2 separate regions of the Homo sapiens genome follow, and region 1 is linked to region 2. The links come from fine-mapping of genetic effects on plasma protein levels. Region 2 holds a variant in brackets. A gene starts in the other region. All regions are shown on their forward strands.

Region 1 (11,447 bases), not on the chromosome of region 2:
ACCTCCAAGCCAGACCTACCCAACCAGGCCACTTCCAGCTTCCTAACACTGGGAAACTGAGAAAGATAATGTACAATTATTGTTTTTAGTCACTACGTTTTGGAGTAAACAGAACACAAATTTTCTGAAAACAAAAAAACCTGTCACATACTTGGGTAATTGTTCAAGCATGAACTAGAAGAGAAGGAGATGGCCTGAGAAGTCTCCCTCAGTTGGTGCCTTTCTAATATGACCTGTTGGCCAAGGTGATTGATGACATTATATGAGTTTAGAGAGTTTTTCCTGGGAGCGATGGTTAATACTGCATTTGCCCAACCAGCTGCACAATCTGATTAGAGAAGTTATGATGTTGGCAAATTGCAAGGCATTCAGTGTCTAACTGTTGAATGAATGAAAGAAACAACAAACAGGGCAAGCATCACTAATTAATAAAAAAATTTGAATTTGCTACAAAATTACTTGCATTTATCCTCCTTCACCTTAGAGACAATACATAAATATCCTTTTACAAATTGCTAGTCTCACTACCAGTAGCCCAGAATGAGAAATTTAACATTTTTAAACTGTGTTTGCCAGAGTGTCTCTCAGCCTGAGGACATCTGTCTGCGGAGTTGCTGCTTATGCATGCTGGGTACAGCCAGGGTCTGGGTAGGAGTGGGCTGCAGCAGGGAATAAGTCCAAGCTTACACTGACTTCTTGGAGAGGGCAATTGTATTAGTCCTTTTTTGCACTGTTATAAAGAAATACCTGAAACTGGGTACTTTATAAAGAAAAGAGGTTTAATTGACTCACAGTTCCACAGGCTGTACAGAAAGCATGGCTGGGGAGGCCTTAGGAAACGTACAGTCATAGTGGAAGGCAAAGGAGAAACAAGCACATTTACATAGCAGGAGCAGGAGGAAGAGAGTGAAGGGTGGGAAGTGGGGTGCTACACACTTTTAAACAACCAGATCTCACGAGAACTCTACCATGAGACAGCCCTAGGGGATGGTGCTGAATCATTAGACACCACCCCAATGATCCAATCACCTCCTACCAGGCCCCACCTCCAACGCAAGGGATTACATTTCAATATGAGATTTGAGTGGGGCACAAAGCCAAACCATATCACCAATTCTACCAAGCTTGTACTACTGAATAAAGAAGATCCTTCATGTATGCATGCTTGTACACATGAACTCACAAATGTTTACTGAGTTCCTGCTATGATTCAGGTCGCATGCCAGGCTATAGCGATACAAGGCGAGCAAAAACAGATGTGATCCCTGTCCTCATGGAGCTTACAGTCAAGCTGGGTGATGGATGAGTAGCTATGGAGATAAGCATGAAAATTCAGCCACGGGAAGGACCACAAAAGCAAGTTCTATGGTGCTGTGAGTGAGTAGAAAGGGGAGATTTTACCTGGTCAAAGGGTTCCAGGGAAACTCTAATAAAAGCTGAGCTTTGAAGGATAGGTGGAAAGGCAGAAAGGGACGGGGGATGGGATCAGTTGGTGCAAAAACCCTGTGAAGAGGCAGCAAGGTGACCGCAAGACTGAAAGGGCAGCGTGACTGGAGTGACCGTGGATGGGATCTTCTATGGAGAAGGGGGAAGGAGACTTGAAAAGGCCTCAGCACTGCAGAGGAGATGGAGGAACAAAGGTAGGAGAAGCAGAAGACAGGTCAGGACAAGCTCCAGTGTCAGAAGTCAGGGAAAGATGCTTCCAGAACAAGGAAGAGGCCTGTAGGCTGAATGCGCTGAGGGCTCACAAAATCATGATTGAATCTAGACAGAGAGTAAGGTCCCCTCCCAGAGTGGAAGCTACCTATAAAACAGCTCAAGCCTGCTTTTTCATTTCAGGAGCATCATATGAATAACAATTCAGTACTATCTGTGAGCTGTGTTAGGGAAGCACATTGATTTGGATGCTACAGAATCACAGAATATTTTCTCCTAGATGTTTTTGTGCAGATTCTAAAGAATGTAAGGAAAATCGACTTTGCTTCTCAAGCGTGGCCAGAGAGCAATAGTTATAATGTGGATGCAGAAGATGGTGCTTTTTCTTAAGTCAGGGAAATCGAACTGTAAATAAAAGAGGCCCTCATCCTAAATGCCTCCCTGTCAACATTTTATTACTTACGAATTCAACACTGGAGAATTCTTGTTTTGATGGCCTATTGTGCAAAGAGCACTGTGTTTGCAGGTGGAGTATCAGGGTTTGCCTCCTAGCTGTGTTATTCCTTAACTGCATGAACATTGGCTGGACAAAGAACCTAAGTTTCTGCCTCTGTAAAATGGGCATAATAAAGTGTCACCCTCCCTGATGGTTCATGTGGATGAATGAGCGCACACGTTGTGACTATGTGAGTTGCAGAGCACTACATCCTTATGGAGAAAAGATCATAAAGCCTTATCAGTCACTTATTTACATGCTAGTTAGAAGGAGGTGATTGGATCCTTGAAGGAAGGCTTGATGGGTGGTGAGAAGGGTGCAGTATGAAAGGGCATGATGTGCTTGGGTAGGTGCCTTAGAGGGAGACATCAGCCAGGAGGGAAAGGGGCTGGGATCACCACCGGCGAACTGTCTACTTCATCACTTCCTCCAGGCCAGTCACACTGCACAGATGGCAAAGCCCCCGTCAGCTGTCAGCTGGTGCAGATGCCATTTCACAGGTGACCACAGTCTGTGCTCTGATCATGGGCCAGGCACACAGGTGGGGTTCATTATGGGACTACTGAACAAATGATGAATGTCCCCATTTCCAGAGTGAGTGCCTATCTGTCCTCATGCTATCTGAGGCATGGGGGGCTTGAGTGGCATGCCCTGTACACACCAGCATGGGCTTGGGTGGGCAGCTCTGCACTGCTCATGGACTAGCAGTTGTGGTCTGCTCTTGACAAGACGCTGGGAATCAGAAAAATGCAGCCTGGGAAGGCGGCCAGACATATGTTTTCTTAGCATAATGCCGGGCCAGCTTTTCAAACTGCCAACTGCAACTTGAAGACTACATTTTGAGCTCTTGTTCCACTCAGATTTACTAATGTCTCCTCCCCAAACTGTGCTCTTTTTAATTCCACAGGATTAGTGTGATTAGAGTGAACATACCCCTATGTCTGCCTATGAGAAGTAGACATAGGGTTAAAAATCTCCTTGGTGGGAAAATAAGTAAAGGAAGTGTTGCGCAACATTCATGAAAATTCCTTTAAGCTCCATGGCCTGAAGATTACAGCACTTGTCACATTGGATTGTGATTGTTTTCAGTTGTTTGTTTATCTGTTGCATTTGACTGTGAGCGCTTCGAAGCATGGGCTGTCTGTGTCTTAGTCACATTTGCACCCCCAGATTCTACTACATGGCATGGAACAAAAATAGGTGTTCAACAAAGGATATATAAAGGAATAGAAGAATGAATGATTTCTCCTGTCCCCATTGACAAGCAGTAGTTGGCAGAATTGGAATATCTTCTTCCATGTGTGGAATGTAGGCTGGATTGACCTGGGCCATTGGACAGAAACTTAGAACACAAATCTGTGAGTTTTTTAATTTAATCATGCCAACCATGCATATGTGAGGCTGGTGTCTGACACCTTAATCCTTTATGTTTCACTAATTCCCAGTAGATTTGTACAATAGAAGAGAATTGCCTTGGCACTGCCTTGCAGTGGAAACATGTTAGAACTTCTGTGCAGAGGAAGTGTGTTTTGGGCAATGATAGATTCATGGCAGGGTGTTTTTTAAGAAGCACCATTTCTTGTCTGCATCTTTGAAACTCTAAGAACATGAGTGATATAACATTGAGGTCTCATGTAGTTGTTTGCTAAGAGGGATTGGTCACTATCTGGATGATAAGGAAGTGTCTCCGATAAATCTGCAGTGGACACGGGGACATGGCGTGTGCAAAACAGACTTTTATTTGTCCTGTCTCCCCTGATCCTCATAGTTTTAATGAAAATGGGAGAGAGGGAAGGACCTTCTGAGAGTCACGTGTGGTGGAGAGAGATGTGTACTTGGGGTCAGAGGCTCAGACTGGACTCCCAGGCGCACCAGTTAAAGGGCCAAGCACATGCCACACGCCTTCTTGGAGCCTTGATTTTCTCCTGTAAAATCAGAATAGTGCCCCTAAAGTTGTTGTGAGAATCGGAACGAAATGAGTACTGTTCAAGAAAAGAAGTAAAGCATTATTTTATTATTTTATTTTATTGCCAGCTAGAAGCTATTTCTATCACCCTTCTCCCAGGTCAAGGCGAAACTGAGATGGCAGTGTCGACTTGCCTGCTTCTATTTTCTTTTCCCTTTTCCCTCTGTTCATAGAATCCTGGGGACTGTTGTGTTCCTCCAGATCTGCTGTGTCCGATTTATTGAGCTCCCCACAATCACAGCAAGTGCTGTAGGAGCACACTCTCTTTTGTTCTCCTTCTATGTAGTCTTTTAAAAATATCACTATTGTGTAATGGGTATTGTGTAGTGTCCTGCGGCGATCACAATATGCAGATATATTCAAATGTGGTGCTTAAAAAGGAATTAAAGAGCCACATGAGCCAAATTGAAGACTGAACAAGATTAAATGTCAGATGAATAATATGAGACACGCACTTTCAACGCTCTACTTGAGTCTGTACTGGAAGGTCATTTGAACTTGCTTCCCATTTATCCATATGAAACACGAGAATAGCAATTTAATTTACCCTATCACATAGGAATGCCACGACAATGTGTATGAGGAGTGCTGAACTCCTTGGATGTATAGTTATTTTAAAAATAACTAGAACAGGAAATAGTGTATATGAACACAAGCTGATCTGTAAAGCCAGAAAAGACCACAGAACTAAGGCAGACTAATAAGGCATTGATTTTAATGACTGGCCATCCATCCAGCCCCAGAGCAACCTCCACTCTGTTTGGTTTTGATGAACAAAATAGAAGCAACAATCAAGACATCAGGAAATTACATGAAAAAACATTTAAATCTTAAAATCTTTCACAGGACAACAGTATTGATATTGGACTCAAAACTGACAAGAAGGAAGAAAACTTCCGTGTGCTCATATTTTTGAGATGACCACGTTGAGAACAGATGACTGACTCCGAGTTCCATTTTCTTTAAGATATTTTGAGCCTAAAGGTAATAATACCTTTTGATTAAAACACACACTCTCATATTTGTAATGAAATCAGAATCAGAACTCATAAGTGTCAGTAATTTCATTTAATATCAAACAGCCCATGGTTGAGGGTTCTGAAACTCTAAAATTGGAAGTAATTTTGCATTGTGCTTCACTCTGAAATGTACCCCTAAGAAAGTTGCTCTAATAAGTATTCTGGGGAGGAAGGTAAGTGCACATGCATCTCCTGAGGATGCAGGGAAGGAAACTGATGTCTGTTGAGCTTTCACTGTGTGCATATAGAGATTATGGCATATGATTAGTTCATTACAATGAAACTAAAGAGTGACATCCTGAAATTACAGAAGTCACAATGGAGAGTTAACCAGCAGCATGAGAATAGTGTGACTCGGTATATTGCAAATCCTCTTTTTCTCCACATCCAATGAGTCAGAAAATCTCCCAAACCATACCTTTAAGATGCATCCAGAACCTCACTGGTTCTCGTGCCCCACTGCTGTCCATCATGTCCAAGCACCGTCTTGCCTCACTGGGATTGTAAGAGCCTGCTTACCCGTGTCTCCTCTGATCAGAATTCTCCAGTGTTGCCCTTCACCTCTCAGATTGAAAGCCTAAACCCTTCCTGCAGCCTGTAAAGTCCTCAGTGCTGCCTCCCCTTCTCTGCTTTTAACTTAACTCCTGCTATTCATCTGCTTTCAGTCACTGCTAATCCCCGGGGTCTACAGCAGTGCTGGGGACAGAGTAGATCACAATAAGTATTTGCTGAATGAATGAATGAATGGCAATTAACCTCAGCATTTCCTGGATATTACTGTGTTTGGTTCTGTGATGGCCTCTTTTGGGTGACAGATGAGCAATAAAGATAAGTCTTGGTTCTTGTCCTCTTAAGAACAGGGGGGAGTGCACTAGTCAAGACTCATTGGTTATAGAAAATAGAAATCTCATTCCAAGTTAGCAAAAGGGAATGTGCTGTCCCCAGAACCAGCGTTCAGAAAGCGCAGGGGTGAGGTGGAGCCCGGGACTCTTGCATCTGCCCGGCTCTTTTCTACCCACCTGGCCGCTCTCCATGCGTGGCTTCCTTCTCTCCAGCTGGTGTCCCTGGAGGCTGCAGCCAGAGCCACAGGCCCATCCTGGCTACTGCACTGGTGTTCGGTGGCCGCTGTAAGAAGTAATTACAAACGGGGTGGGTGGCTTAAACAACAGAAATCTGCTCTCTCAGTCTTGGAGGCCAGAAGTCTGAAATCAGTTCCACTGGCCTGAAGTCCAGCACAGGCTCTGGAGGAGCCTCTTCCAGCCTCTGGTGAGGGCTGCCAGCATCCCTGGGCTGTGGGTGCATCGTTCCCATGGCTGCCTCCGTCCTCACCTGGATTTCTCTTGTGTGCGTCAATCTCCCTCTCCTCTGTTTTATAAGTTACATACATGACTGCATTAGGGCCCACCCAGATAATCCACGATAATCTCTCTGTCTCAGCATGCTTAATTGCTTTTTAATAAACCATGTAAGGTGACATTCACAGGGTCAGGGACTAGGACAGGAATGTCTTTTTGGGGAGGAAGGCTGTGTTTCAGCCTGCCATGGCTACCATCCTTCCAAATCCACGAATGATGGGAGAAAGAGACCTTTCCACCAGCCCGTGTTAGAAGAGTCCCAACTCTGAGTGACCCTGTCTAGGCCACTGCAGAGCCCTGAGCCAGTGGGGAAGTGGGGCTTTGGGAAGGAGTGGGAGTAAGGAGGGGGCCTGTCACTTGGTTGGAGTTGGGGAGGGAGCTACCATTCCCCCAAAATAGGCAGAGCCGGGTGGCTGCTGGTGAGACAGAAACCACACAGCTCCATTAAATGGCATGTGGGGAAACATGATAACATAAGGGAGTAATGCAGGAAAGTGTGTTTGGGCTGGGCGTGGTGGCTCACGCCTGTAATCCCAGCACTTTGGGAGGCCAAGGTGGGCGGATTGCTTGAGCTCAGGAGTTGGAGACCAGCCTGGGCAACGTGGGGAAACCCTGTCTCTACAAAACATACAAAAATGAGCTGGGCATGGTGGCTGAAACCTGTAGTCCCAGCCACTTAGGAGGCTGAGGCAGGAGAATGGCTTGAGCCTGGGATATGGTGGTTGCAGTGAGCCAAGACTGCACCACTGCACTCCAGCCTGGGCGGCAGAGGCAGAGGGAGACCCTGTCTCAAAACAAAAAGAAAAAGAAAAACAAACAAACAAAAACCTTTGCTGGGAAGCAGGAGAGTTTCCTGGAAAGGAAGGCGGTAGGTTTACACCTTTCCTGGGTGCTCAAATTCAAAGAGATACTGTATTTCTGGTTTTCATCTCTTTGCAATTCATTTACCTTTTTTTTTTCCTCTCTGCAGAACACAAATCCGGTCAAGTTTTGGGTTGTCATGAGGGAGAACTGACATAGCGCTGGGCGGTGAGTTCAGCCAGGTTATCTCTGCGAGGACACCGGTCGGCGGCGGACAGCAGCACGCGGCGTCCAGGACCCGGCCTTCCTAGAGCTTAGGTCACTGTAGCCTCCAGGGGCGCTCCGAGTCCATCTGGAGGGCCGCGAGGCTTCCAGGCTGGAAGGAGGAATAGGGAGAAGGAGGAATAGGGAGACCTGGGGCAGTGTTACAATTACAGAAAAGGGAGAGGCGAGGTCCGCTGAGTCCTTGGCCTGGGCAACAAGGCACACTGAAAACTGGGTTCCTTTTCGACCCGCATCGTGCGCGCCCTAGAAATGACAGCCAGACGGAGCAGGGTCTAAGGACGCTGAAAACCCCTGACGTGGGCGCGCCGGGTGCGGGTAGGGACGTGGAAGGACTGGGCTAGCCACAGGAACTACAGCGCTGCGGACCGGGTGAGGGGTCCCGGCCCGAGTCCCCACTTGGGGCGCAGAGGTGTTTCTGTAAGGGGACAAAGGGCACTCCTCGGCGCGATGGGCGACTTCCCCAGCCAGAAAATGAGAGGGTTAGACGAGGGGAGGAACTTCCTCAGCCACTTGGCCCGGCACAGCGACCGCCCCAAGTTCAGAACCGCTAAGTCAGTCCGGGGCGCTCCGGCCCCTTCGTCCCGCGCCCCGCCCGCCTCCAGCCCGGGCCCCGCCGCCCCCGTCGCCCCTGTCGCCCGGGTCGCCCCCGCCGGCCCTGGCCCCGGCCCCGCACACCGGCAGGGGGCGCCCGAGCGCAGCTAAAAGGCTCGGCGGGAGGTCGGCGGCCTCAGTGGCGGAGCGCGGCTGCCGGTGTGCGGCCGGGAGCGATCGCCGCGGGGCAGGGGCGCGGCGGGCACCGCGCAGAGCGCGCAGAACAGACGGACGGCGGCGGGGACCCGACGGCGGCGCCTCGGCACTCCCCAGACTCCGGCCAGCGCCCCCCTGCCAGCCGCAAGCACCCAGCCCCGGCCCACCCCGGGCTCTCGATGGCCCCCGAGGCCGGGGCGACCCTGCGCGCGCCGCGCCGGCTGTCCTGGGCGGCGCTGCTGCTCTTGGCCGCGCTGCTCCCCGTCGCCTCCTCGGCGGCGGCCTCAGGTACGCGCCGCGCCCGGGCCCCCGGCGCTCCTCAGCTCCCCGCGCACCCTCCTGCGCTCGGGCCCCGTCGTCCCGCTCAGTGCTGGCTACGGGTCGTGTCACTAGCCTGTGCGTCCTCGTCACTCGCGGGTCGGGGCACTTGGCGCCCTGTGTGGGTGGCGGGAGCGGGGACGCCTCGGTGCCCGGGGACCGCAGCGCGCTGGCGTTTAACTTTGCCGTCGCCCGCCTTGGAGTCGGGAGGCTCCAGCCGTCTAAGTGTCCCGGGAGATTCAGGCACAGCGGGGAAAAAAGGAAAAGAAAGGCGACTTTCAGCGTGCGGACTGGGGTAATGCCTTTCTTTGCCCAGAATTTCTCGGGAGCGTAGGTGGTCATCCTACTTTCTCCGCGTTCACCTCTCGCGAGGCAGGATGACGGGCGCACTCGGGAGACCGGAGGGAGGCAGAGCAGGGCTGTTCTAGAAGGTCGTGGGGGAAAGGCTGCGAGCTGCCGCAGGGCGTCGGGTGCCTCTGCGCTCCAGAGGAGAAGCGCTCCAGTGCCAGCTCGGCTCCAGGCGGCAGGAGGCCCGCGCGCCCGGGGGGAACGTTCAAGCTGGGAGAAAATGTTTGTCTTGAGAGGAGGGAGAGGGAAATGAGAAAGCTGATTCCAGAGAAACTCGCCCTTCCCCAATGGCTGAGGCTGCAGCCAGGATGGATGCTTCCTTTGAGAGCAATGCTTTTCAGAAAATGCTAGCGCGCTCCTGTCAGATTTCTTGCAAGCTTCCTGCAGAGAGAGACAAGTTTGTGGCGAGGTTTTCATTCCTAAGCCTTTGGCGGCCCTTGTTACCACCTCCTTTGCAGGCATTTTTACACTTGAAACTGGCTTTTAGGTTATTGGTTTGTAGAAATCCAAGAAGCAGACAATGATCGTCAGATACTATTCCAACGAGGGTACCAGTTTTATGATGCTATTTAGTGTATATATTGTTCTCTTACTTCAGGGGTAAAGGAAGAAAAGTTGGGGATCACATTACTTTGTGACTTTTTGGTAGATACATCATCCCAATGCTTGGCTCAGGTTTATGCGAGGTATTCTGATGCCAATGCCACTTTCTCATAAAAGGCAGTGCCTGCCGTAGGGTCTTTTTCTTCCCATTAGTGAACTCTAGGAAAGTATTCACTGAATACTTTGCACAGTACTTGAGAGGAATAAAACTAAATAAAGTCTTCCAACTTCCCCACCTACAACTCCTGGCTTTTGTTTTTCTAAGTGAAAATTTTCAGAGTGCTGGAAGAGTTTTTGTTTCTGAAAATGATCTGAAACTGGAACCAGTGCTGCCCTGGCTTTGTGGCGATTCCAGCCTTCTGCTTTTCCGATTCCTCTGCCACCTGCCCGTGGGTTGCATGTGAGTGGGTCCGAGCGGGGTTGTTTGTGAGAGCTCCTGGAATCCCACCGCGATCTGCACTCTTGCTTTTTCGCCTTCTGCTCTGTGAATCACTGTGCTGAGGAATGCTGGGGCTGGACAGCTTCCCAGCCCTTCTCTCTACTGTGTTGACGTGGGATCTACAGTCAAATGATGACCAGACTAGAGGTGGACAAAGGAGGACAGGCACATTTCAGAATGAAATCTACTAAATTTAAATTAAGTAATAGAAGGATAGAAACAGACATAGCAACCTGTAGATAGCTCCCCATGCTGTGGATGAAATTATGGGGTACATAACTTCTTTCATGGGCTCCCTTTGACAGCAACGTCATGGATAGACTGCTCCCTCTCTCTGGTTGAACTAATGCATGGACCAAGCGAGCTGCTTGTGTCAAGCTCTCCCCTTCACCACCCTTTTGGGGCCAGAATCTCTGTAAGGAAATTACCCACGGCCACATAATAGTGGCTCCGAGGGACTTTGCTTAAAGCAGGACACACTGAAGATCTGGATAAGCCCTTCAGTGTAGGGTCAATTAAACATAAAACAAAATAAGCAAGCAGTGTCCCCTCCTCCACTCATATTCATCCCTACAATAGGATACTATGCAAACATTAAAATTATGATGGCCTTGCCAGTCTGGTATGATACATTTTTCTAAACACATGTGGATGTACTCACACATGCACATATTTGCAGTGGGTATCTTAGGATGGTTAGGGATGATTTTTATTTTCTTCTTTAAAGAAGCTTTTAGGGAATTTTCCATGTCAAAACTATTTTCAAAGTAATACTAAGATTACTAAGATGCTATTTTCCTTTTTCACAGTTGACATTTGCACTGAGGGTGCAAAAGCTTGATGGGTAAACTGCGGGTGTCTTACTGAGAATCAAGGCAGGGACATCACCATGCACTAGTAGTCTTTGAATTTTGGGGGGACTTTGCAGTTAAAAAAAATTTGCCAGTTTCATTAAGAATGTTCTTGATGCCACAGTAAAATTATTAATTTTACCAAATCTTTGTATCTTTGAGTGTATGTCTTTTTAATAGTGTAAATAAATGGGAAGGACACATAAGTTACTACTGCTGATGACCAAGTTCAGTGGCAACCCCAGGGGGAAGCACTGGTGTGATTGTTTGTGTTATGCATTAAGCTAGCTGGTTTTTTAAAATGGAATGTGGTATTTACCACAAAGAATGACAACAGACAAACTAGAGCTATTCTGACTTGGGTATTTGGCCGATGTTTTCTCAAAAATGAACAAAGGGAACTTGCTACTTCTAGTAAAATAACTGCTATTATTGCTTGCCAATGATAACATTTCAGCTTTCAAGTGAAAATCAGAATTTTGCCAAGTTGTTTCCACCACTGTAAGCTTGAAAGTTTCCCAATATTTAAATTTTTTTCTAGTGAGATCAATGGTGATATAAAT
Region 2 (11,897 bases):
CCCTCGGTGGTAAGAGAGGAAAAAATAGTTTCTGTATACAAAGCCCTAACATAATAAACAAGCAGAAGCACTTCCTGATAAATAGCGCCAAGCAAACATTCACATCCTTGCCTCTGCTATATTCAAAATGTTTTTACTAGACCAAGTGCAAAGTATTATTATCATTAATATTAAGTTTATCCTTCTTGCAACTGAGCCAGGCTCCAGTTCTACAGGAAGGTCTGGTAGGAACCAAGGGTATGGCCGTTTATCGTGGCAGATACTTTGGTTTTAATTCCCTTCATATAAATGTTGTAAAGGCATGGATGGATAGAAACATTACTGCATTTGGTGAAACCCACGCCCAACGGCCCCAGGCCTGCAGCAACCACCCCACAGAATGATCAACACGGAAACTCCAGAGCAGTAAACAGGCCAATTTCAGATCCAGCGACAATCCCAGCAGGCGGCCAGGGGAAGAAAAGCAAGGACGACAGCAAAGACAGACGGGTGCCCACAGGTTCCCTGTAGCTACCGCCACGGAGTGGGAACCCCAGCCAGGGCACAGACAGAGGCAGGGCCCCTGTGAAAAGGGGCAAGGACTCAACTTGCAGGGAAGCACTGCCTTGTGCTACCTTTGTTCACTAACGTGAAATGCTACTCTGAGTGTTCCTTATTTTTAAATCAAAAATTTAAAAACCACACACACACACAGAAACCTTTCCATCTATTGACATATTACATACAGCATCATATGAGTACAGTTCGACGAATTTTGACAAACCGAGCCCACCCCTGTAAATCGCACCCAGACCAAGACAGAAGACATCAGCAGCTCCCAGGAGGCGTCCCTGTGCCCCACTGCCATCAACACCTGCCCCCACGCCCACCCTCCAGGGCAACCACCATCTGAACATCCTTGTTTACACGTCTTCCCGGACTGGAATTGGAATCCCAGAAATCAAGTGGAGTAAATGAAGTGCAACTTTGTGCCAGTGTGTTTGAGTTGCGGCTGCTGGGCCTGCAGGTGACAAGGCGCTGCTTCCCCAGAGACCTCTTTCAGCATTCCCGTGGTATTAGGAGAAGGCACTGCAGCAGAGCAGAGAGAGGAGCAAGGCAGGGCTGGGGAAACTGCTCACATGGAGAGATGTGGGAGGCAGTGTCTCCACGAGATGTCAGGGCCCTGGAAGAAAGGAGACCCTGTTGGAGGGGCCAGGCAGGACGAGGGGACACTAAATACCAGTGGCAGCCATAGAATGATGTGTGTGAAGTGCCACCAGCCACAGGGCTCAGCCATGCAGCTGGGTGGGGTGGGGGTGTGTGAGAGGGTCCTGCTTAGATAGCAGCATCACCACCCCTAGGAGCTGGGCTTGGATCTGATGAGAGTCTGTTTCCTCCCCTAGATGATGAGCCGTTCCCAGGGCTGGCCACTGAGGATCTGGGTCACACAGGCCACTGTCCTCCCCACATGAAGTTTGCAGTCAAGTTAGAAAGATGACAGGTAATGAGGTCCACACCACACAGCTTTGGTGTGGCACGTGTCAACACATTCGCCGACAGAACCAGTGCATGAATGAAAGCTTGAGGGCACAGAGCACCTCTCCTGTCTTGCCTGAGGTGTCCCCAGGAGCAAGCCTGACAGCCAGCTGGGCCACCCTGTGAGACCGGGGCCCGCTGGAGCCTTTCCATGAGGAAGACTGAGCCGAGCGCCTGCACTAGGAGGAGCCACGGTACCGCCAGGCTCCTGGGCCCGCTGGGGGAGTGGGCTGCCAAGCACCCAGTGAGCTGCGGCTGAAACAATGATGACATTTTGTCATCTCTGTCAACACAACAAGAACTTGGGAGGCAGGCAGTCCCCCGCCATGCACAGTGCCCAGTACTGTCACCAGAGCCTCTCCTTTATCCTTCTCCTCTGTCCCATCAGCTGCTGGTGGCTCCTCCCTCCCTGGCAGTCACAACACAGCCACCTCGTTCTGTGCATCATGGCCTCAAACTGCTCCTCCCTGCTCATCAGGGAGGGAACAGCCAATGTTCCCTGTGTCTCATTGGCCATAAGGTCACCTGCCCTGCAGGGTGCTGAGACAGGGACTCTGGTCACAGGTGGCTGTTGGAACCCTCCCTCCTCAGAGCTTCGCAGGTCAAAGGGATGCGATTAGACTCTGTCAACACCTCTAAGAGCTCCACTGTGCGCAACAGAGAACGAGATTCCGTCTCAAAAGAAAAAAAAATCAATCTATCCACCATCATAACTTTAGTCAATATGCTTATTCCGTCACCTCTTCATTTGTCATCCTTCAACAGTATCTACTGATTCTGCACTATTAAAAAATGAGAATTTCCCTCATTTACCCTCCCCCACCTCCTCTCAGTCACGATTGTTAGTTTTCACATTCGTTAGATTCGCACCTGTCAATATAGACTTGGGCATTTACTGCTTTTCCATCCAGCTGAGACTGCTGAATCTTCAGCACACCGTGGAGGCCTCTGAAGCCCTGTCCTGTCCTCCGTCTCCCCTCCCCTCTTCCCCTTCTCTTCCTCCATCCCGTGGGTTTTTCTTTTGCAGCACCAAGGATGGCATCATATTCTGTTTGATGAGCATAATTAAGTTTTCTGTTCTTTGTTAAGTTTTATCTGTGTTGAAAACAAGTCAACGGCATTCGCGTTTTTACAACTTTGTAAGTACCATTCATAGCAGCCAAGTGGCTTCCTTCTCTGTGGTTGGTGGCTTTCCCGGGGCCACAGGAGAGAATGACTTCAGCGTCAAGGCTGAATGCATTCTGTCTCTCATAAACTTTCTTCTTGCTCAAAACCATAACGTGGCCGGGCGCGGTGGCTCACGCCTGTAATCCCAGCACTTTGGGAGGCCGAGGCGGGCGGATCATGAGGTCAGAAGATGGAGACCATCCTGGCTAACACGGTGAAACCCCGTCTCTACTAAAAACACAAAAAATTAGCCGGGCGTGGTGGCAGGTGCCTGTAGTTCCAGCTACTCAGGAGGCTGAGGCAGGAGAATTGCTTGAACCTGGGAGGTGGAGGTTGCAGTGAGCCAAGATCATGCCACTGCACTCCAGCCTGGGTGACAGAGCGAGACTCCGTCTCAAAACAGAAAACCATAACATATTTTTAGTTTTTTCATGATTAGACTGTGGCTTTCACAGACAACTTTTTGATATCCCCCCCATGTTTGATTTACCTTTCATTTTTCTCATGGACGAAGAATAACTGCCTCTTGATTGCGCTTCTCTGTCTTGCAATCTGTGCTGTTTATTTATCTGTGGACATAGCTTCTAACTTGTCACTCCATACTCCCATTTGTAACTGCCAGGGCTGGAAGCCTATGAACTATATTCCCAGCTTCTCCTGATGCAAGTTTCCGGCCAATGAGAGGCACTGGAGGCTGGAAGGCTGGATCATGGGAGAAAGCATGTCCCCTTCTCCAGCTCCGGGAGCAGCTGGCAGCTGAGAGTGACTGCAATCTGCAGATTGGTGGTGGGTGTCACAATAGTGGCGGAGCTGTTGATGTTTAGGCTCCGTAGCAGCGGCCAGAGGGTAACTCCTGGTTTCTGGATGAGGGGCAATCGTGCTCATGAGCTCTCGTAGCTTCACTTTCCATTTCATTCTCCAGTTCTATAGGGGGTCAGTGACCTCCTGTAGCTGCTGCTCTCTGAGTGCTATGGAATGAATGTTTGCGTCCTTCCAGATTTTTATGTCAAAGCCCTGCCCCCCAATGCAACTGTATTTGGAGACAAGGCCCTTAAAGGTAATTAAAGTTAAATGAGGCTGGATGTGGTGGCTCATGCCTGTAATCCTAGCACTTTATGAGGCCGAGGCAGAAGGATCACCTGAGGTCAGGGGTCTGAGACCAGCCTGGCCAACATGGCGAAACCCCGTTTCTACTAAAAATACTAAAATTAGCCAGTCATGCTGGCACATGCTTGTAATCCCAGCTACTCGGGAGGCTAAGGCAGGAGAATCGCTTGAATCCAGGAGGCCGAGGTTGCAGTGAGCCAAGATCACGCCACTGCACTGCAGCCTGGGTGACAGAGTGAGACTCCGTCTCAAAAAAAAAAAAAAAAAAAAAAATTAAATGAGGTTTAAGGATGGGGCCCAGTCTGGTAGTTTGTTCAATTTCTTTTCAAAAGAGCATTGTTTTTGTTTTTGTTTTTGTTTTTTGGCATGAGGTTGTAATCGCTGTGTGCCTGGGGTCGGGAGGCTGACTGACAAGGCAGCTTCCTCCACAGACTTCCAGCAACAGTCCTGCCCTGGCTGCGCTCCTCTCCCCCAGGCCTCCAGGCCACCAGCTTGCAGCCTGTGCTCCTCTGGGGAGGGATCCCCCGCTCCCCCACTCCCAGCCTCGCCCTGACAGTGATCCGAGTTGCGGATTTTGGCTTTCTCCTCCATCCTCACCCGTCCAATTGCCCTCCAGCTCACAGAATCATTTTCTCAAAATTTTCAACTGCTAATGACCCTGTCACCAGGCCACCTGGCAGGGAAGCCCACTTGTCCCCTACCAATAGGCCCATGGTGTCTTGGAGGCTTTCCTGGTCTCCTGGGACAAGACAGCTGCCCGGCTTGTAGCCAGGACTGTGCCTGTAGCCCACCTGCTGTAAGGTCACGCCTGCAGGCCCTGAGTTTTACCGGCAAGATCTAAGTCAGTTCTCTACCAACACCCTAAGGCAGGTACTACTACTTTCTCCGTTTAGAACTGGGGAGAGTGAGATGCAGAGAGCCCCTCCCCCGACCCTAGGCAGAGCCCGAGACTCGCCGCAGGCTCATGCACTGTGCCACCTGCCCTCCTGAGGCCACGCTCTTCTCACGGGAGGTGGCCCTGTGGCCTCACCTGGGCCGGATGGGAATTGCAAACTTGAAACCACTACGTCTTTTTCCCTGTTTTTATTTTAAAAAGGATATTAAACGAACATATCTTTTAAAAATTAAAGTGAATTGAAGTTCATTTTCATTTTATCCTGAGAGGTTCACAGTAGCTCTTGAAATAAATGAAAGTGACTTTAAACGGGCTTTGTTTTGAGGTGATCTCAGCAGCTCTGAGGATACGCACAGCAGTCTTGGAGTCTCACAAAACTCGGCTGGAAATCTCTGGCCCCAGAGGGAGGAAGATGCTTCTCTATTTCTACCTGAGGCCTTCCTTAGGCTCCTGGTCAGGAAGGGAGAAGAGACCCCGGGCAAGGGGTGAGAAGTGGGGGTGGGGGAGTCTTGCCCCTTCCTCTGGACGACAGAGCCCATTACTAGAGGGAATTTCAATGGTGTTTCCAACCCCAGGTCTCACCCAGGAAGGAGGAATCTAAACAAACTCAGCTGCCAGTGGCTCCCCCATAGCGACAGTTTGAGGCCGGATTCACTGAAGTTTTCACAGATGAGTCTAGGTAAAGTTGTGGGGGTTTTTGCTGTTGTTTTGTTTTGTTTTGTTTCTTTGAGACAGGGTCTCAGTCTGTCGCCCAGGCTGGAGTGCAGTTGAGTGATCTTGGCTCACTGCAGACTCCAACTCCTGGATTCAAGTGATTCTCCTGCCTCAGCCACCCAAGGTGTGAGCCACCATGCCCAGCTAATTTTTGTATTTTTAGTAGAGACAGGGTTTTGCCATGTTGCCCAGGCTGGCCTTGAACTCCTGAGCACAAGCGATCCGCCCACCTCAGCCTCACAAAGTGCTGGGATTACAGGCATGAGCCACCGTGCCCAGCCAAAGTTGTGGTTTTAAGCAGGATGTTCCAAAGTCCAGTGGTTATGACCAAACGCCACACAGAGACAGAAGCCTCCCGCACAGCCCCAACTCCCAGCAGCCATGGTGTTCCAGGTCCTCCAAAGTCAGCTTCTCCTCCAGGAGGCCACTGAGCTCCCCAGCTGCGGGGCTGAGGCCACACAGCCCTGTGCGGTTCATCTGCCATCCGGGCCCTTCTTCCTCTTCTGAGCTTCACAGTTAGCCCAGGGAAGAAAACAGGCGTGTCTTCCACAAACCCTGAAGGGAATGGGAAGTGCCAACAGTGAGAAGGACTTAGATGTAAAGGATTTACACACGGTCACGGCATTTCCACAACCCTCTGGGCACCTGAGTACACGTGTGCAGACACACCCCCAGATGGGGGCGAGGGGTGGGGTGCCCCAGCTATTCACACCTAACCATGAGCGTGTGAGGCAGCAACACTTAAAGGCCACTTGCTTTCCGCAGCATCTCGATGGAGCAGGAGCCTGCCTGGGGCATCTCCAGGCAGCTTGGCTGAGCACCCAGGACTGAGTGCAACCCTCAGCGTTTACATTTTTTAGTACTATTCACTAAGAGAGAGAGAGACAGAGAGACAGTGATAGAGACAGGGAAGGACAGAGACAAAGAGAGCAATGGGTGAAGAAAGAGCAAGCAAGCAGGGATGTCGGACATTTCACACAACGCAGTCACCAGGGAGGCAAGAACACTTACAGAACAGTTTGAGCCAAAGAGTCACTCAGGGACAGGAACAGCAATTTCTTAAATATTTAAAGCAGACACCCTGTGAGCGGCTGTGGAGGCGGCTCTTTGTTAATATTTAACACGAGCTGGGCAGTTGCCGGGAAAACA[G/A]CTGTTTACAGGAGAGATTAACCAATATTCATCATTGCTCAAAGCTGTGGGGAGGCTTCAGGGGACAGGCAGCTGCCGGTATTTCTAGAATACAGCAGCTCAAGGCCACAGGGCTGGGGAGGCTCACGGTGTCCCCAGGGTGCATGAAAACTGTAAACAGGCAGTTCGGGGTCACCTACCCTGCTCCAGAATCACGGTTTGCAGGAAACCCAGCCCTGCAGCTGGGCCTGGGTGGTGGCTGCTGGCCGGCCAGCCAGCACCTCGCTGGACAGCTGCGTCCCACAGTCCCAGGCTGGGCTGTCCTTCAGGCCCATCCACAGTCCCAGGCAGACTCCTCGTGCACTCCCTGCATGAAGTCGGGGGCAGGTGCTCGAAAGTAGAGGGGTTCCCACTGATGGAAAGTGTCACCAGCCTGCCTGCGAATCCCCCAGCTCACACTTGGGCTTGCAGGGACACCAGCCAGGCCGTCTTGCAGAGAAGACAAGCTGCCTATTTTCAGGGGCTATGAGTCTTGTTCATGACAGTTTTCTCCTCTATGTGCCAAACATTCAAGAGCCTGGCCATTTTCACACAGCCCCATAGCCTGGGTGAATCAGGCCTCACTCCCCTGTACTTCCTTCCAAACATTCTATCACTCCCAACACCCTCCACCCAGGCCTCATGGAACTACACACAGATCACGCTTGGGCCCAACTGGATGCGGAATCCCAGCTCAGGACCAAGGAATGCTGCTGCTGTCTCCACAATGCCCTAGACCTGCAACCCTGGGCGCTTCCTGGCATACCACTGCCCACTCTGCCCACACCACAGCTGACTGACTCCTAATGGCTCTTCAAACAGTTGTTTGCACACCTGACCATTTATTATAAAGGAAGAAGCGCCGAACAGCACGTGCTGCTCTGAGGAATCTGTACAAGAATTGGGGCTCTGCGTATTAATCTTTGCTAAAATGAATTTAGTTTGGGTATTTAGGTTTCACAGCATAAATATATTTTTCTCTACTCTGAGACCAATTGGCACAGGCTGTCTAAGGCATTAGAAGAACAGTCCTTAATCTTTCTGTGTTCACAGCATAGTTCTGAATACCAGAAATCTAGAGGAATGCTTGAAGAGGTTTTTAAAAAATTAAACAACATTAAAGGAGTCAGCAATGATTTCCATCTCAGCAAAACAGGGGCCCTCAGGGTCCAGAAACATCCATGGCCATTGAGCAGTCACTTGGTCATTCTTGTGGATGCTTTTTTTGAGATGGAGTCTTGCTCTGCCACCCAGGCTGGAGTGCAGTGGCGTGATCTCGGCTCACTGCAACCCCTGCCTCCCAGGTTCAAGTGAGTCTCCCGCTTCAGCCTCCCAAGTAGCTGGGATTACAGGCATTAGCCACCACGCCTGGTTAATTTTTGTATGTTTAGTGGAGATGGGGTTTCACTATGTTGGCGAGGCTGGTCACGAACTCCTGACCTCAAGTGATCCACCCGCCTCGGCCTCCCGAAGTGCTGGGATTACGGGCGTGAGCCACCACGCCTGGCCTTCTGGATGCTTTTTATTTTGTGGTTATGCAGCATCAGGACAGCCTTTTAACATTTGAGAAGTGAACCGTCTTAGTGGGAGGCAAAACCCTGCTTCCCTCTACAGAAGCCTAAAAGGCCAAGAACGTGCACTCCCTGACACCGGTGGGGGGTAGCAGGGCTGTGCAGCCACATGCCCAGGAGGCACGGAGACTTCAGGGTCCGTCCCCCCATTCCCAGGTGGCAGAGCAGTGCCCCAGTGTCCTGGGTGCGAAGAGCAGTGGCTAGTGCATGCTCAGCACCAGCAGTGTCCTAGCCACATGTCTTGGGGCTATAGCTGTGGCCACTTGGCACCTCCAGGTTCCTGACCCTTCCCCACAGTGACTCAGCAGGGAGTTGTCTGTGAGCCACTTGATACCCTTTTACAATATTCCCTTTCTGATGATTAACCAGAAGTGCTTTGCAGGCGGGAAGCCTGGTGCGCACAGTCAGGGTCTGCCCTGTGCTGCTGCTTGAGGACTGTCTCCTGCCCTGACGGTGCTCTTCAAAGCTGCCGCGGGCCTGCTTGATGTAATGCTCACTTCTGACCTCTTTGCCCATGCAAGGCACACCCTGCCCTGCCGTCCCTCCCACCCCCTTCCTCCTTGGCATTCTGATGGACTCAGTGGTCCCCAAAATTGCACACATCAATTAAACCAGCAGCACACTCATGGAGGGCGGGTGGCGCCCTGGGTGCTGCTGTGTGCCAGCTGTCAATCACCGTGGGCTGGAATGTGGATTACAAGCCTGGAAGGGGTATCGCGCACTCAGGGTTTAGCCACAGTATACAAACGGCTTTTCCACCTTTCCTGTCCTGAAGGCCACAGCAGGGCCTGCTCTGCTCCCTGCGGCAGTGGTCCTCATGCTTGGCCAGGTGACTAGGCATACTCGCAGTTACTGCAGGGCCACTGTGTCCCCGGCTGAGCCTCGTGCCACAGAGAATTGGTCAGAGAAGAAGGCGGCTTAGAGAGGGTCCGGTTGGCCTGCAAGCCTGAGCCCCTGCCCAGGTGGAGATTAAATCCTTGTTACCTGATGGTATTGACGCTTAAAATTAAAACTGAGTTCAGTTACTGAAAATAGAGAAAGGGCCACTTCTATGCTCCTGAGATCGGAAGTGAGGTTTATCCCCCCGGGGATCTGAAGGATCATCCACTGGGCTTCCCTAAAGCGGCATTGTGTCATTTCTCCCGGCTAGGAGAGGTCTCCCCATTCTCAATTCCCGTCACTTATTCTCACTCAACAGAACCTCTCAGAGCACCTACCGTGTGCATGAGCCCAGTGTCGATGGGCCACGGGCCAGCCAGCCTGGGACGCGTGTCCAGGGCAGCTGGGATTTGGACTCTACTCCACGAGGCCACACAGGGGAAGGGGAAGCCCAGACGGCTGTCAGGGCATTCTTGGGAGCCGGGGGTTTGGAAGGGCTGTTGGGCGTGCTGGGGCACCGGCTAGGCTGTGGGGTGGTGACTCTCCTGCAGCCTTGGGGGGCTACCCTGAGATCATCTGTCACCCCACTGCTTGCTGCTCACTCCTGATCCCGCATTCTGGCTGTGGGCAGAGAGCACTGCCTGCCACATGCTGCGACCCGTGGCCCCTTCGCCAGTTTAATTTTCTTTTGTGCCCGTTCCCCCCTCAGCGTTCTAGTATTTTAATGTGTGTCCTTTTATTTGCTTGTGTCCCAGTATAAGACACACTATTCTATTTTGGTTTCTAAAATTATTTCTTTACTAGATTGAACCTTTTTAATTTTATTTTTATTGTGGTAAAATATATGTAACATAAAATTTACCATTTTAAATATTTTCATATGTACAGTTCAGTGGCATTAAGTATATTCACACTGTTGTACAACCGTCACTGCTATCCACCTTCAGAGCTTTTTCATCTTCTCAGTCTGAAACTTTGTTGCCATTAAACACTAACTCCTCATCCCACCTCTGCTCAACCCCTGAAAGCCATCTTCCTTCCTTTCTTTTTCTTTCCTTCTTTCTTTCTCTTTCTCTTTCTTTCTTTCTTTTTCTTTCGCCCTCCCTCCCTTCCTCCCTTCCTTCCTTCCTTCCTTCCCTTCCCTTCCCTTCCCTTCCCTTCCTTCCTTCCTTTCTCTTTCTTTCTTTCCTTTTTTTTGAGACGGAGTTTCGCTCTTGTTGCCCAGGCTGGAGTGCAATGGTGCGGTCTCAGCTCACTGCAACCTCCACCTCCTAGCTTCAAGCAATTCTCCTGCCTCAGCCTCCCAAGTAGCTGGGATTACAGGCACCCACCCCCAGGCCCAGCTAATTTTTGTATTCTTTTTAGTAGAGACGGGGTTTCACCATGTTGGTCAGGCTGGTCTCGAACTCCTGACCTCAGGTGATCCCCCGGCCTTGGCCTCCCGAAGTGCTGGGATTACAGGGGTGAGCCACCGTGCCCGGCCCCCACCATTCTACTTTCTGTCCCAATAATTTTGACAACTCCAGGCACCTCACATACGTGGAATCACAGAGTATTTGTCCTTTTGTGCCTGGCTTATTTCACTCAGCATAAGGTCCTCAAGGTCTGTCCCTGTTGTAGCACCTGTCAGAATCTCCTTCCTTTTCGAGGCTGAGTCATCTTCCCTTGCCTGCGTAGACCACGTTTTGCTTATCCACTTATTCCTTGTCACTCAGTACTGTTTGGTACTCTTGACCTACATAAGGACTATTTCACTCTTGGCCTCGATGGGTTTCTATGTTCACTCAGCACCAGAACCTCATAGTAGTTTCCTGCCTCTGTGCACATCTGGGCCGTTGCTTCTAATGGGGACCTGGCGTCCCGGGGGTCCTCTGCACCTGACTTCCCCTCTTACCCGTGACACAGGCCCCCAGCCTGGGACGCTCCTGCCGCAAGCCTCAGTGTGCAGGTCTCGTTTATCATTATCTGTGTTTCCGCATTTTATGTTTCCCACCCTTCTTGCTTCCATTTGGCTCTGTTACGGTTCCTCTGTCTGCTTTCCATTATTAATACTGCCCCTTAGCTGAGAATACCTATGACACTTAGTATAGATTCCGATGGGTGACTGTGGCTCAGTGTGTTTTCTCCCTGGGAGAGAGAAGTGCCCCGGGGCCTGCATTTGCCTTGATCTTAGGTGCATGTCCTCCTGGGGACAGGTAATGGGGAAGGTGCTGAAGCTCAGGCCCGGGGTGTCTGTGGCCCCCATGAAGGGGGTTATGAGATGGGAGATGAGCCCTGAGACCATGAGGTTGCTTCTGTTGCCAGCACTTTCCCTAACTCACAGTTGTAGGTGGCCCTGAGAAGAGGTGGGTTTTTCAGGTTGCAGAGCCCACCAGCCCTGGGGAGCAGAGGGGGCAGCCAGGAGGGGTGCCCGAGGAAGGCTGATAGGAATGTACCCAGCCTCTACCCATGCACGCCTGGGACTGGACCCTCACCAACACAAGGCGGCTGGGCTGGGATTGCTGCTATCCCAGAGGAATGGAATAAAGTGGGGTGGACACAGGAGCAGGACTTCCAAGCTCTCCCCACCACTGCTCCCTGCCCTGGCCCTGGGGCTGCTCCCACCCACACCCCTCACGGGTCCCAGTGGCCTCAGGCTTCCCCGGGGCTCTGTGGTTTCATGCTCCCTCTCCCCAAGGTGTCTCCAGGGTCGAGCCGGGCAGGGGTGCAGCCCATGCTCTCACTGAAGCCCGTGGCTCTTCCGGTACCTCCACGGAGTCTGACCCGATTTCAAGCCCTTGGTGGATGCTGACGGGACCCCTGTGGACTACCTGTATTTTCTCTTCATCCAAATGTTGGTGGAAGGAAGGAAAGAAGGAAGGAAGCAAGGACTCCCCATTGAG

Which allele goes with the higher level. Positions count from the first base shown, and alleles are read on the strand shown. Strength reflects both the effect of a copy and how common the allele is.
In carriers of allele A in region 2, the plasma level of the protein whose gene starts at base 8,308 in region 1 tends to be higher than with G alone (moderate association).

The links. PIP is the posterior inclusion probability: the model's chance that the variant is causal. Protein levels are from antibody-based Olink assays in UK Biobank. Linkage for the fine-mapping came from a reference panel and not from the study's own genotypes, which makes the PIPs less certain.
Region 1: it holds the start of FNDC1, and the variant in region 2 is fine-mapped to the plasma level of the FNDC1 protein (UK Biobank, PIP 0.95).

The regions. Positions count from the first base shown.
Region 1 is chr6:159,161,093-159,172,539 of GRCh38, forward strand. FNDC1 (fibronectin type III domain containing 1) reads left to right here and starts at 8,308. Exons shown (of 23, transcript NM_032532.3): 1 at 8,308-8,613. The coding sequence starts at 8,505. FNDC1-AS1 (FNDC1 antisense RNA 1) reads right to left here and starts at 8,915. Exons shown (of 4, transcript NR_121668.1): 1 at 8,720-8,915; 2 at 7,441-7,669; 3 at 6,157-6,262; 4 at 4,807-5,096. RefSeq lists a silencer at 8,187-8,356 and an enhancer at 9,163-9,662.
Region 2 is chr15:101,521,908-101,533,804 of GRCh38, forward strand. LOC124903567 (a long non-coding RNA gene) reads right to left here and starts at 6,467. Exons shown (of 2, transcript XR_007064784.1): 1 at 6,410-6,467; 2 at 4,858-5,953. RefSeq lists an enhancer at 8,412-9,070. The variant G/A (reference allele first, on the strand shown) is at 6,548.